Homo sapiens: one gene and its partner. The protein of the gene in region 2 interacts with the protein of the main gene of each other region in a biochemical or structural test. Each region holds a gene or a part of one and is shown on either strand. Other genes may lie near its edges.

The links. Proteins that work in one complex are often made in the same cells at the same time.
Region 1: the proteins of PTPN3 (region 2) and SCN5A form a complex in vitro, tested with the Homo sapiens proteins (2 studies listed by IntAct, with this or other methods).

What each region holds. Positions count from the first base shown.
Region 1 is NC_000003.12:38,597,688-38,604,687, forward strand, and holds part of SCN5A (sodium channel protein type 5 subunit alpha), read right to left. Parts: intron 6,397-7,000; coding exon 6,025-6,396; intron 1,364-6,024; coding exon 1,231-1,363; intron 281-1,230; coding exon 42-280; coding exon of another isoform or gene 1-41. UniProt on the Homo sapiens protein: Pore-forming subunit of Nav1.5, a voltage-gated sodium (Nav) channel that directly mediates the depolarizing phase of action potentials in excitable membranes.
Region 2 is NC_000009.12:109,376,283-109,383,390, forward strand, and holds part of PTPN3 (tyrosine-protein phosphatase non-receptor type 3), read right to left. Parts: intron 6,166-7,108; coding exon 6,020-6,165; intron 5,506-6,019; coding exon 5,370-5,505; intron 3,352-5,369; coding exon 3,274-3,351; 3' UTR 1-3,273.

The sequences.
Region 1 (7,000 bases), on a different chromosome or scaffold from region 2:
CCAGGATGCCCATTTGAGAGCCAGCTGCAGGCAGCCCTTACCAGGTTTCCGACCTGCAGCATCTCCTCGAATTCACTTGTCATGTTGTAGTGCTCCAGCGCCATGAAGAGTGTGTTGAGTACGATGCACATAGTGATGGTGAGGTCAGTAAACGGGTCCATGACCACCAACTTCACTCCCTGCTTGATGGACATCCACAGCGGGCAGCACTCCCAGATCAGGTAGCGCTGGGCGAGACGGTTCCAGCATGGTGGACACTTGTGGCGAGACTCCTCTAACTCTGAGGGGACAGCCAATGAGTTAGTTTGATTCTGTTGACTGAGTCATATGTAACTGGAATACCTTCCAGGAAAGATTTATGACTTGCTCTGGGAGATGACAGGGCTGCTAGGTGACAGCGGGACAGTGGGAGCAGGGAAGGCCAAGGGAGTGGGTGGCCTGTGTCCTGGCTCCTTAATCTGGAAATATGAGAGAAGAGGTCCATAGGGACAGGAAACAAAGATGGAGGTGGGGAAAATGGGGACAGGAGAGATTATCAGGACAAACGTACAACTGCTTAAGACAACAGTCCCACATAGACCTGGGGACACTCAGGGGAGGACAGGCTGAAAATGATGAGACAGTAATGGGGACATGCAAGTTCAGACACGAGGACACCTGGGACAGAATGGGCAGGGACAGATGTGGACATCTGGGATGTGTCAGGACAAATGGGAGAGGGGATGCCAAGGACAGGCTGGAAAAGATGAGAATACATCCGAGATAGGAGGGAACAAGATCAGGATGGGGGGTGCCCCATTCAGACTGGAAGGGATGTGGAGTTGCCTAGGGCAGGAATGGCTGGGAAAGATGTAGGATGCCTGGAATAGTCTGAAGTAGATATGGGAATAGCTAGAACAGGCATGGGTATGCTCAGGACAGGATGGTCCTAGATAGACATGGTTATGGTTGGGAGATGATGGAATGAGACTGACAAGCATCTGGGACAGGCCAGATGTGGGAGTATTTGGGAGAAACACAGGCATGGTGATACCCAGGAGAGAACAAGCTGAAACAGATGAAAAGACATGGAAGGACAGGCAAGGCTACACAGAACAGAGAAGGCTGGGACAGTGTGGGGATGTCTAAAGCAGGCCAAGACAAATGGGGGATGCCTGGGTCAGGCTGGGATAAAGATGAGGGTACCTGCAGCGGAAGTGGGGGGTGCTTAAATGACCTGGGGTTGCTGACCTTCCAGTGCGCTGGTGAGGACGCTGACTGCGCTGAGGGCCCGCTGCCGTGCTCCTGGCTCCTCGAAGCCATCTACACACGGAGCCTGGGAGGTCAGCATCTGGGGCCCGCCTGGCTCCTCCGATGGCGTGGTCTGAGTGCAATCAGGAGATTTGCGTCAGCCTGGGGAAAAGGGTCCTGCCCCCAGCTCCTGTCCTGCTGGACCTGGGGAGGCCGGTCCAGACTCAGGCTGGGGATGCCACAGGGATAGGATGAAGGTCTTGATGGGACACTGGATGCTGGGCTTCTCTGTTCCCAACTCCCTCCCAGTTAAGAACTCCCTCCACCCCTCCTCCCAATCACTGTCTCCTTCATTCTCCTTTCTTCTTCACTGCCTCTCATCAGCAGTGATTCCTGAGTGTGGTCAGGAAGCTACACATATCACAGGTCCTCCCTGAGCCTGATGCTGCCATACACATTAGTACATGCAAAAATGATCTGGGAGTCTTAACTGACCACAAGTTTCCTAGCGTCAAGAGCATAAAGAAGCTGAAAAAAAAATCTAACATGCTCTAAGATAATGCTAATAGCAGGATAAAGTACAATGCTTACATATGGCTGGTGGGGGGCTGTGTCTTTTGTGGAGGCAGTTAGGCTGGATTTACCAAGAAAATTTTAAATTGGCCCTCAAGTCCTCGTCTAGTAATCTAACTTCATAAATAATTACACATGTGCATCAAAAATACACATAAATGATGTTCATTGCAGCAGTGTTCCTAATACCATAAGAACAAAACACCAATCAATAGCAACCATATTCAAATCAATTATAGACACAGTCCAACTCTGGGCTCTGATAGACAACAAAGAGAACGAGGCAGTTCTTTGGATGCTCCCATGCGGACATCTCCAAGACAAACAGTTTGATGAAAAAACAAGAAAAAGATCTGGAAAATGCATACCAAATAATTAAAGTGGACATATCTGGGGAATGGGATTGTGGGGGAGGGGAAAAAGAGGGAGAAGTTCCCTTTTCACTTCATGTACTTCTGCACTGTGGGGTTTGTTTTCACCATGCATGCACCATTTTTATCAGTAAAAAACCCAGGCCTGGAAACAGCCCTGGTGAAGGGAGGTGGCAGGCAGGCATTCTCTAGGCTTACCTGGAGCCTCCCACAGAACCAAGGAGGGCCAATAAAGCCTTCACTTCAGCAGGGCCCTGCATGACCACGGCCCAGGTGCTGAGCTGTTCAGCATGCAATAGCAAGACTCTAATCTTCATAGGGCAGAGGGAAGATGGGCCTAGATTAGCCAGGGTAGAAGAAGCAGGGCATAGGGTGGATACCAAATAGATCTGGGCTCAAGTTAAGGACATCCCGGCCATTGGTAGGACTGCTCTGAAATGTTGCCTAGGGAGGTAGTGAGCTCCCAGTCATGGAAGTATTCAAGTGGAGGCACCTGAGAGGGCTGAGGTGGCTGGTGCAATGGTACTACCCTAGGTCCAACGCAACCATGAATTTGGCCAGCTTAACTCACAAGCAAGTTTTAAATTCTCCCAACTTCTCCCCTCCTTCTTTGCCATCTATGATAGTTTGGTTATCACTTGGCACATATGCACTCTCTTTCCCCTCCCACCGAGGGTGAATTAACTTCCCTGCCCTGGGCATGAATGACTTGCTTTGGACAACAGAATGTTAGTGGACATGCTGTGAACAGAAACCTCAACTGGGCTAGTGCTGTTTATCTTGCTCTTGTGCTCCAGGAATTCTCCATGAAAAGAGCTTCCCCAGATAGCTGTCACCTTTTCAGCCTAAGCCTCAGAACAAAGATGCAGAGCAGCCCTGAGCCTAACCCACAGCATGGAGCCCAGCCCAGCCAGCATGCCGTCTGGAGCAGGGCTTCCCAGCTAAGCCTAACCTACATGGGCCATGTTGTAGTTAACTTGCAGATAAGTGAGCATGAGAATAAAGGCTTGTTGCTAGAGATTGACTTCTGGGGTAGTTTGTTACACAGCATTATTATTATAATAGCTGACTAATACACCATCCTAGTCCAGGCAGTCATCTTCTCTTTCCCAAAACCACTGCAACAGCCTCCTAACTGGCTTCTTTTCTTCTTCTCATCCCTGTATTCTCTGCATAGTAGAAAGGGATTCCTTTAAAAAGTAAATCAGATAATGTCACTCCTCTGTTCAACAACTCCTCCCACCCTACTCCTCCCCATCTTACTCACACAGTATATCCAAACTTATCTATGGTCTAGAAGGCCCTGCACAGTCCAAATCCTAACTCATGAAATTCATTTTAATGTTTCACCACACCTGGCCCTGTTAGTCCCTCTCATCCCTTGGATGTGTCCTCCTCAGGGGCTTTGCACTTGCTATTCCCTCTGCCTGAACGCTGTTCCTCTGCATCTTTAGGGCTGGCTCCCTAAAATCATTTGCCTGTCAATTTTAATGTTACCTTCTTGGGAAGGCCTTTCCTGAGTATTCTAATAGCCCTCATCCTCATCCCTCCCCTTAGCAGCTTTCTATCACATGACTTATTGCTACCTGAAAATATTGATCAGTTTACTGTCTTCCTAACTACGGTATAAACTCCAAGAGACAGTGATCTTGCCTTCTTTGTTCACTGCTATAACCCTGGAGTCTCAACACTGCCTGGCACGCCACATGGCAGGCTGGCACTAGATAGATATTGGTTGGATGGATAAATTCTTGGGAATCAATCGGAAGGCTTGGGTTAGAGTTCCAGCTCTGTTCCTAACTTGCTAGGTGGCCACAGGAAATGAGGATGAAGATTTAACATGTAGGGGGAGAAAAGGAATGGATATTCAGTGTGCTTCTCCCACCTCCATCTGGACTTTTGGAACCAGGCAGTCTCATACAAGCAAGGGGCAAAGTAAGTCTTCAGCCCCTACCTCCCAATCTGGATAAACTGAACGTGAGCTGTCTGCTGGGCTGGCCCTTCCTTCCCATCCTTGTTGATTAGGCACCCACAGTGTGCCCAACCCTGTGCTTTGTTTTCAGACTAGAACTGGGCAGAAACGTCTCACTGGGGACCCAGTGGAAGCACAGAAGGCATTCCCAGGGGCCTGCAGCCTGCTAATCTCTTTGACTCTTCAAATGTCTCCATCTTGGTTTGCTAATTCCTTTAACTTTGCAAATGACCCTGTCTTGGCCTGCTAATCCCTTTAAGGTTACAAATGGGCCCCACAGAAGTGAGAATGGGTGAAGTCAGAATTCCTGGTAATGAAGTGCTTGAACTTGGATTCCTCCCGACATGTGCAGTACAATGAGATGATTTTCTCCTTAATGAGATTAGGAAATTCTATTAGCGCTCCCAGCTGCTGACCCGATTCCATGAGGCTGAGGCTCCAGGGCTGAACCTGCCTGGTTCAGTGTTCCTGGAAACTAGACACCCCACCCTTCAGATGGGCCAGGGCCTCCCCAGCTCTACCTAAAGCTGTGGTCTGCCCCCAGGGGTGCCCAGTTTCCTCCCTTCACCCTGTGCTCCAGAGGAGTGTGGGGCCCTGGGCATTCTGCAGTGTACCCCAGGATCCTCACTCCTTCCTGCTTACTAATACCAATAACAGATAATACTAATGGCTCTAAGACCAGGCAAGTATTGGTCTCAACACTGGACCTAGTTGCACTCTTTCAGTCCTCACCACAACTTGCTGGCGTATAATTTTCACTTTACAGATGAGGAAATTGAGGCACAAAGAGATTAATTAACCTGTACCAAGTCCCACAGATTGAGCGAGAGTCTGAGTGGCACAAAATAAGCCACGTGGCTGGGAGCCCTGCATCTTCAGGCCATCCTCCACCTTCCTGGTCAAGCCTCCCATCTGTTCTACCTTCCTCTCCAAGTGCGCTCTGCAGGCCTTGGGGGTTGAGCCAGATGTTCAGCTTTTTCCTGGGTGGGCTGCTCTGGTCACTGTGTTGGGGGCCTGGGGTCAGCAAGGACACCTGATGGCTGATTGGGCAGCCATCAGTCTGTCATAGAACTGACTAAGTGACCAAAGCTCTGATTGGCCTTTCACAATCTGGCCAGTCCCTTCCTATCACCTTTGTAACAGTCACTGCAACTTCTCTCCCCGTCGCTCCCTCTGTTCCAGCCACACTGACCTCGTGGCATCTCCTCCAACAGGCTAGGCAGAGTTCTGCCTCAGGGCCTTCACATTTGCTGTTCCTTGTGTCTGGAACAGGCTTCCCCAGATGATGGTAATGAAGGCTTTACTAGTTGTGACATAGTTAACTATCATCCCTCTTTATCACCATTACACACAATATAGACATTTTTTCTTTTTGATTTTTTTTTTTTTTTTTTGAGATGGAGTCTCACTCTGTTGCCCAGGCTGAAATGCAATGGCATGATCTCAGCTCACTGCAACCTCTGCCTCCTGAGTTCAAGTGATTCTCCTGTCTCAGCCTCCCAAGTAGCTGGGATTACAGGCACGCGCCTCCATGCCCGGCTAATTTTTGTATTTTTAGTAGAGATGGGGTTTCACCATGTTGGCCAGGCTGGACTTGAACTCCTGACCTCAGGTGATCTCCCCACCTCGGCCTCCCAAAGTGCTGGGATTACAGGCGTGAGCCATCGCACCTGGCTTTCTTTTGAGTTTTGTCTGTCTGTCCCCATTAGCATGGATGCTCTATGAGGGCCCAGTTTTTTTTTTGTAAGTTTATGCACCTAGAGCCCAGCACACAGTAGGTGCTCAACAAATATTTGACGTGTATTTTTGGACTTGGCACTGGTGATCAGTTTGGGAGACCAGACCTGCTGTGGTGCCTGCATCTCGGGGCTGGCTCACCGTGTCTGGCGGGTGCTCTAGCATCACAGGGCGGAGGAGGTGGCTTCCTGGGGATGTGGCCTCTGGGTCGCCTGCCCCCAGTAATGAGACCACCCCATTGCAGTCCACAGTGCTGTTCTTTTTGCCATGGAGGGCGTGGCCAGGAGCCGAGGTTCCGGGACTGGGCTGTCCCTGGGCACTGGTCCGGCGCAGGGGCCAGGGCACCAGCAGTGATGTGTGGTGGCTCTCGCTCTCCCCCGCTGTGCTGTTTTCATCATCTGCAAAATCTGCTTCAGAACCCAGGTCTCGCCTGCGAAAGGTGAAAATGCTCCCGCGGCTGGAACGTGGCTTCATAGAAGTCCTGCTGAGGCCACGGGTGAGGCTGAGATGATTCTAAGGGCATGAGGAGAGGGGACACGACCATGACATGTGCTCTTCATGTGCTCCCAGCCTGTCTTTTGTGCCACTGGCCTCAGCTAAACTTCTCAGAGCATTGAGGGCTTTTTTGGCCACACAGGAACCAGGTGGGTTGGGCCGGGGGTATTTGGAAGAGGGGATGTGGGGTTAGAGATAATCCTGTATCTTCTGGGATGTCTACTCCCCTCAAATCTATGTCTCTGGAGCTGGGAGCCTGAAACTTAACTGGGCTTGGAGTTAGAGCTCAGGCTGGGCAAGGGAGAAGGAGGCAGGAAGGCTCCTGGTGTTGCAGACAGGCCCGGCCTGAGGAGGACCTGGGGCACTCGGAATGGACCCTCACTCTTATGGGCATGTCCTTGAACTCCTACCAACCCATACCATGGGGTCTCGTCCCCCAGCCCCGGCTCCAGTGCCGGGATACTGGCCTCAGGTTGGGGATATCACAACACCCAAAACTACCCTGTCCCTCTGCCCAGAGCTCCCCTACTCTAAGGAAGGCCATGGGAAACAGGAAGCGCAGAGATGAGCAACCATGGGGGCTGTGACTGTACAGGGGCCTAGCATGATGGGATTTTCATGC
Region 2 (7,108 bases):
CCATTTCTGCTGCCTCTTTGTTGCCTCTGGAGGATGAAGAGGGCTTTTTCGCTTGCCCTCAAATGCTCATTTCTGAGGTACCCCCCCCAGAAAAAGGTCAGGTAGCAACACAGCAGCAATAGTATCCACACTAATCTAAAAGCATATTTAAATATGAATTACTGTGGTAGGAAACGAAAGACAACTGTGTGATCCAACCACTGCCCCCTAACCAAAGTTGCATTTTTTTCTTCTGGAAAGTCAAAACACCAAGTGCAGGTTCTAGAGGGTGACACCAGCAGGGATCTCTCATCTTGATTAAATTGGCACATCAACATGTTTAATTAGATCTTTCAGAAAGTGCCAGAACATAGGATGTAAATGTCTTCTCCATTCATATGCAGCCAAATTTCCCAGGCAAAATACTTATCCTGATTCTGATGTAGTTCTTCACTTAGGACTAAAAAAAGGCTTAAGTATAATTGCTTAAGTGTATAAGGTGGTGAAACAGGAATCTTGAGCTACGGATTTTAAGTGGTAATAGCTACAGGATTTACTTGAATTGTTTGCTCTTTTAGGTAATTCTCTTGTCTTGTTCTTCCCAGTATTTCCTGGATTTGTTCCTGGCAACCTCGCTGGGTCTGAACTGCTGGCCTGCCCAGTGGCAGAAGACTGCTTGCAACCTTTGGTAGGCTTTTTAGAAATTTATGTGACCGTAATGGCTGCATTTCTGCAACCATAATAAACAATTTGTTTTTGGAAAAAAGCAGTAAAACACCCATCTCCAAAGACATTTAGACTACTTTGCAAGCATTTTGCACACAGGGTGATGATGCATTTTTACCAAACAGTAATAACTTGCTAAATATCCTAATGGCATTTAAATTTTTGCCAGCGTTCCCTCCATCCCCCTTTCTTGGAGCTTGCTGAATTTTTGTGAGTCCAGATTATTTTGTGCTCTTGTTCTCTCTCTTCTAGAAGAGCATTTTCTATTTTCCTCTCATAAAAACCCAGTTAGGCTGGGCACAGTGGCTCACGCCTATAATCCCAACAGTTTTGGAGGCTGAGGTGGGAAGATCACTTGAGGCCAGGAGTTTGAGACCAGCCTAGGCAACACATCAAGATCCTGTCTCTACACACACACACACACACACACACACACACACACACACACACACACACACACACACACACACAAGCCAGGTGAGGTGGCATGTGCCTATAGTCCCGGCTACTCAGGAGGCTGAGGTGCGAGGATTGCTTGAGCCCAGGAATTTGAGGCTGCAGTGAACAATGATCATGCCACTGTACTCCAGCCTGGGCGACAGTGAGACCCTGTCTCTAAAAAGAGAGACAAAAATCCAGTGGATTCTATTTTTGACTGATGTGTTTTTGGGCTAATCACTGATAACTAAACTTTTCTAAGTAACTCACCCACAGCAGTGTCTGTTGCTGTTCTAGCCGATAAAAAGTCACATGAATAGCGTGATCTTATTCAATCCTCATGTTCCAACTAAAGTCCTAAGTATTGTTTCTATTTTACAGATAATGAAAGAGAGGTAGAGCTTCTAAGCAACCAGGCCCGCAAGTAGTTAGTGCTGAGTGGGCGTAGGAACTGAATCCCCTGCCCCTTAGCTGCAAACTTTCTGGTGGTTTCTTGTTTTCAATATGGGGTTATGGTACTGTGTGACATCTCCCTCCCACCTCTGCCATTTAGCAGTAAAATATCCATGTGGAAAAGAAACAAAGTATGCAAGTAAATATGCTAGCTCTAGAGATAAAGAATCTCCCATATAGGTCTTCATCCGTCTTGCTACCAGCAAACTATTCAATTGGCACCGAATTTGCTGAATATCAAAATGGCTTCATTTATGTGCATTATAATATGAAAACATCTTTTCTATAAATACCATTAAGAACCTGGCTTTACTTCCTCTTCTGAGTACATAAAAACCGCTGTTCAAAAATACCACATTAAATGTTTACACAATTTATTTTCCTTAAATAATAATTTGCTACAATCCTGTCACAAATTTAAAAAAATTTAACACGGTATTCACAAAGGCAGAATTCTTTAGGACAATCAAAATGATGGTGTTCTTAGAATAAATTAACATCAGATTGTGTTTATATTCAGATAGTCTGATCCTCTCCTTTGAAATGCAATGGAGACCATTGTGACTGGGGGTGAATGCACACATTTGTTCTTCCATACAGAGACTCATTCTTTATATATACTCAACGGTAATTTGAATCGTTAGGAATCCTGAGAAACACTCACCCCTGGGCACACACATGTACACAGCCCCACGGCCAACCCTCCAGAAGCTGGGTTTCCCATGGTTCAATTACTAGAAGCTCTTTTCTCAGAAGGCCAAACATTCGGAATATTTAGATGACACTGTCCCATCTCCCCTTGGGAAAATCATAAGGTTTCAAGTGGAGGAGCTTGAAGTAGCAGCAATACATGTAGGAGATTCAGTAGTCGGTGATTCCAGTCCTGGGTGCTGAGTGTGCAGTAGGAGGCAAGCAGAGGCAAGAGACACACCTGCTTCTACAACTAAGCCACAAGATGACCAGAACACACTGAGAGTACCAGTTCTCAGAGCCTCAGCTGAAAATTCACCTGAATGCACATTACTAATCCAGGTTAGGCACCAAGAGGGAACCTGAAGAGGGACACAATTCTCAGAAACATGAATATTGGAAGTCGCTGGGAGATGGGACAAAGGGAGGGAGGGCAGAGAGGTGTTGCTCAGCCTTCAGCCTGACCCCCAGTGCCCTGCCATCTAGTACATACGTCAGGGTTTCCTTAGCATCAGGGCGGGTGAATCTGAATTGTTCCAGCTCCACCTAGAAGCACAGAAAGCTCAGCCCTTACAGTCTGACACACAGAAACAAACAAAACATCCAAATGACCCAAGATAACCACACCATCTTGTTGCTGGGAGGACAACAGCTCTGTGGGTGTCCGGTCTCAATTGCTCCAGGATGCCGACAGGGGTGTGTGTGGTGATGTTAGGGAAGAAGGCATTAGGACAGGCCCCAAACTGAGATCCTTTTTGTATCTTTCCATAGAAATACAGGCCTAAATGATGCCATAATTGCATGCTTATCTACACCAGTTCCTATGTACACGATATCTTTTCTATAGAAGTTTAAAGTGCCTGGGTTCAGAGGTGCCCATTCCTTTCCCACAGCTACTGGTTCCTCTTGCTGCTTCCAGAGAGGTCTGTCCTCCTCTTTCAAGGAGGATGCCCTTGGGAAAGAGGAATGAACTTTTTCACAGTTGTCTTAACTAGGATCCAGCATTTGGACTAAACCTTCTTCATACACACGAAGAATCGCTTCACACACAAACTTGTACTGGCTCTGGAAAAGAAAAAAATGCTGTCAAGTCCTGTAGCTCCAGGAAATGCTGCCTACCACACCCTGTACCGGTGGGTCTTTTGCAGCATTTGTAAATATTCCCTGAGCGCCAACTCTGGGCCACAGGCCAGGTACACCTGTGAAGCCCTAGTTCCTATATGATGCGGGGAGGGGGCACTCCCAGAGAGGGGTGGGCAAAGTGTCATGGAGACATGACAGAGGGAGAAACTGGCGGTCTGGGGGAGGTGGGAAGGAGCAAAAGTCCCTGCGGGACAGCCCTTCTTGTAAGTGGAAGTGTGGAAGCCTCAGTAAGAGCCCATTTTGAGAAACGGGGTCAGGGAGCCTGCTCCTGGACTCAACACCTAGGCATGTGGAGGAGGAGGGGCTGCACAGGTGGGCTGGGACCTGGTTGTGGGCACCTTGTGTTGGGGTAAGGAGTCTGGATTGTGTTTTACAAAGCAGAGCCACTGAAAGATGCTCTGCAGGATACAGTTATTTATCTTAGCAAATACCTAAGAAACATATTGTAGCAAAGTATACAGGGGGGATAAAAGCATTTAGACTGAGCTTCTCCAGCTAGGAAAATCTATCTATCTATCTATCTATCTATCTATCTATCTATCTATCTATCTATCTAGTTTTCAAGACAGAGTCCTGTTCTGTCACTCAGGCTGGAGTGCAGTGGCGTAATCTTGGCTCACTGCAACCTCCACCTCCTGGGTTCAAGCGATTCTCCTGCCTCAGCCTCCCAAGTAGCTGGGACTATAGGCACATGCCACCATGCCTGGCTAATTTTTGTATTTTCATTAGAGACGGGGTTTCACTATGTTAGCCAGGCTGGTCTTGAACTACTGATCTCAAGTGATCCACCTTCCTTAGCCTGCTGAAGTGCTGGGATTATAGGCGTGAGCCACCGTGCCCAGCTTCCAGCTGGGAAAATCTACCAGGATGATGGACTTTTTTCTTTTTAACCAGCCACGAGGTCTTCCATACCAAAAAACAGGGCAGAGAATGGCCCTAATAACATAAGCTGATTTTTTTTCTCTTAACAAGATTTTCTGGGTACAAACTAATATAAAACTACCAAAGCTTAAAAATTTATTAGGGAAATCTTATAAACTTTGTCCACAGCCTGTGAAGAGACAGAGCTGGTTGGAACATATAGTTCCTGCTCCTTTCTTTGCTAACTCCTCATGTACCCTGGGGGTTTTTACCAGAGAAGACACTTCTCCAGGAAGCCTTCCTAGACTTTCCAAATCCTGCTTTAGATACTCTTCCACCATGTTCTCAGACAGCCCTGAACTTCCCTCACCGCTGCTGACACTTAGCATAGACTAATCCAGTTCTCCTACTAGATACAAGCCTGTCTCTGCACCCTTCTTTGTCAAATGAATGAATGAATGAATGTGGGATGGTCCCCATTTTGCACAGGGAAGCTGAAGCTTGGAGAGAGGTTCAGGACTTATGCAAAGGTTGTTCCATTTGTGGTGGGACCTTAATCATGCTCTTTCCACACCGCTTCACTGCCCCGCTTGCAGTTCCAGGGGAAATCCCCAAGAGTTATCCCCTAGAGTTCCTCTTGAGGACAAGAGGATGTTGCACATGACCCTACTTTGAGCTCTGGCCTGCCCGTGGAGGACACAGCAGGTACTCAGGCACCACACGGGTGGAACAGAGCTCAAAGTAGGGTCATATGCAACATCCACTGAGCCAAAAGGAGTACCCAGGTCTAGGTGGGTCGGTGCGGGGGAGGATAATGGACAAATGATTGTTCAACGATACAGAATGCAACCAGGGCTGCTCCCTGACAGACGGGCTGGCAGGAAATAAACCACAGAGGCAGCAGAGCTCAGAGGTGAGATGGGTGTGGGCTGTAGCCACTGACAAGCTCTGTGACCTTGGGCAAGTGATTCAGTCCCCCTGAGCTGCAGTCTGTTGACTCACAAAGCCCTTCTCTCAGGCCTGCCTGGTGTAAGTGCTCAGAAAGTGCCAGCCACCGTAATTACTGGATTTCTACTCACTGATGTCTGCACCATCATGGCGCGCTGGTCTCGCATTTTTCGGACAATATCCAGTGGGTAAATGGGCAGGTTCCTCTCAGTTAGGCACATGGCTGTTTCCATAGTGACCAACACACCGGTTCGACCTATTCCAGCACTGGAGAGGGGAGAGAAGACAGACTTGGGATTTGTCTGAGTAGCCTTTCTGCATGGCCCAGCGAGCAGTTCCCCGCTGACTCCAAAGGGGCTTTCCTCCCTTGGCCTTCGAGAAGACAAAACGCACACTCACGGCGTGCTCTCAAACAGGCTGAGACAGCCTGTCCTCACACATCTGAGACTGGGGGCTAGCAGGCAGTGGAAAGAGGGCCACTGTGAAGTGCCAAACCTATTCCCTTTCTCACTCACACCTATGACGAAGGTCAGCTGACAGAAGGACAGGAGAAAGGGTGTGTGAGGGGATTTTCTTCTTCAGTTCTGTGCTACATTCACAAAGTTAGGATTTCATAAAATTCCAAAAAACTTTTGAAATGGTGAAGAACCACAGTCAACAGAGGTTTGTAAGGGCACACGACTTTGTGGGATGTAGGGTGGGTCTGGCGCCTGCCAATTGTCTCCAGGCCTTTTCCGACAGGGAAAGGATTCCAAACCTAACAAAACAGCAAGCGCCATACCTGCAGTGAACTAGGACGGGCTCGCTGTCCACTCTCAGAGACCTCACATAGTTTACAAATTCCAGAAAGTCGGAGGAGTCATCGGGCACACCGTGGTCAGGCCATGCGACGTACTGGAGATGTGTCACTGTGTGTTCTTCCCCGGTCTGTGGGAGATGCAGTGGCCTTGGTGAGCCCATCCAGGTGGTGAGCATGAGGACCCAGCCCCAACCCAGACACAGGGTGGCCCTGTCTCCTGATGCTTTCTCCCTCTGCGCACAGCCCTGCTGTGGCCCCTAGCAATTCCTCCCCTCCTTCCCCAAAGATCCCCATCCCCTCTCAGGCTCAGCTGTGGGCCTGTCCTGCAGGGCTGCCTTCCTTGATCACTTCTGCCCAGTGATCTCCTCTGCCCAGTGATCTCCTCCATTTGCTGCTATGGTACTTGCCATTAGAGGCCACACATGCTGACTGTTTTTTTTTTTTTTTTTCAACTGTGGCAAAATATACTAACATGAGGCTTACCACTGTAACCACATTTAAATGTACAGTTCAGCGGCATTGAGAATACTCGCAATGTTGTAGAGCCATCAGCACTACCTATTTCCAGAACTTTAAAATATCCCGCAAACATAAACCCTGCACCCATTATGCCATATGGCAAAATGTCCATAGATGTCCTTTCTCCTCCTTCCCCAAGCCCTTGGCAACCACCGTTCTACTTTCTGTCTCTATGAATTGGACGACTCTAGGCACTTCACAGAAGTTGAATCCTACAGTATGTGTCTTTCTATGTCTGGCTTATTTCACTTAGGATAATATGCTCAAGGTTCCCCAGTGTTGTAGCAGGGGTCAGAATCTCCTTCCTTTTAAAGGCTGAATCATATTCCATTGTATGGACAGACCACGTGCTGTTTATCCATTCCTCCATCGATGGACACTGGGCTGTTTGCACCTCGTGCCTGTTGTGACTAGGGCCACTGTGAACTCTGGGCCCTGGCTCTTTGATGGGCAGTCTTGCGCACTTACTGACACGCTTGCCAGGTGCAAACAGAGTGCACACCTAGAAGCGTGACCACCTGGGATGACAGTGGCCGCTGATTCAGCACCTGC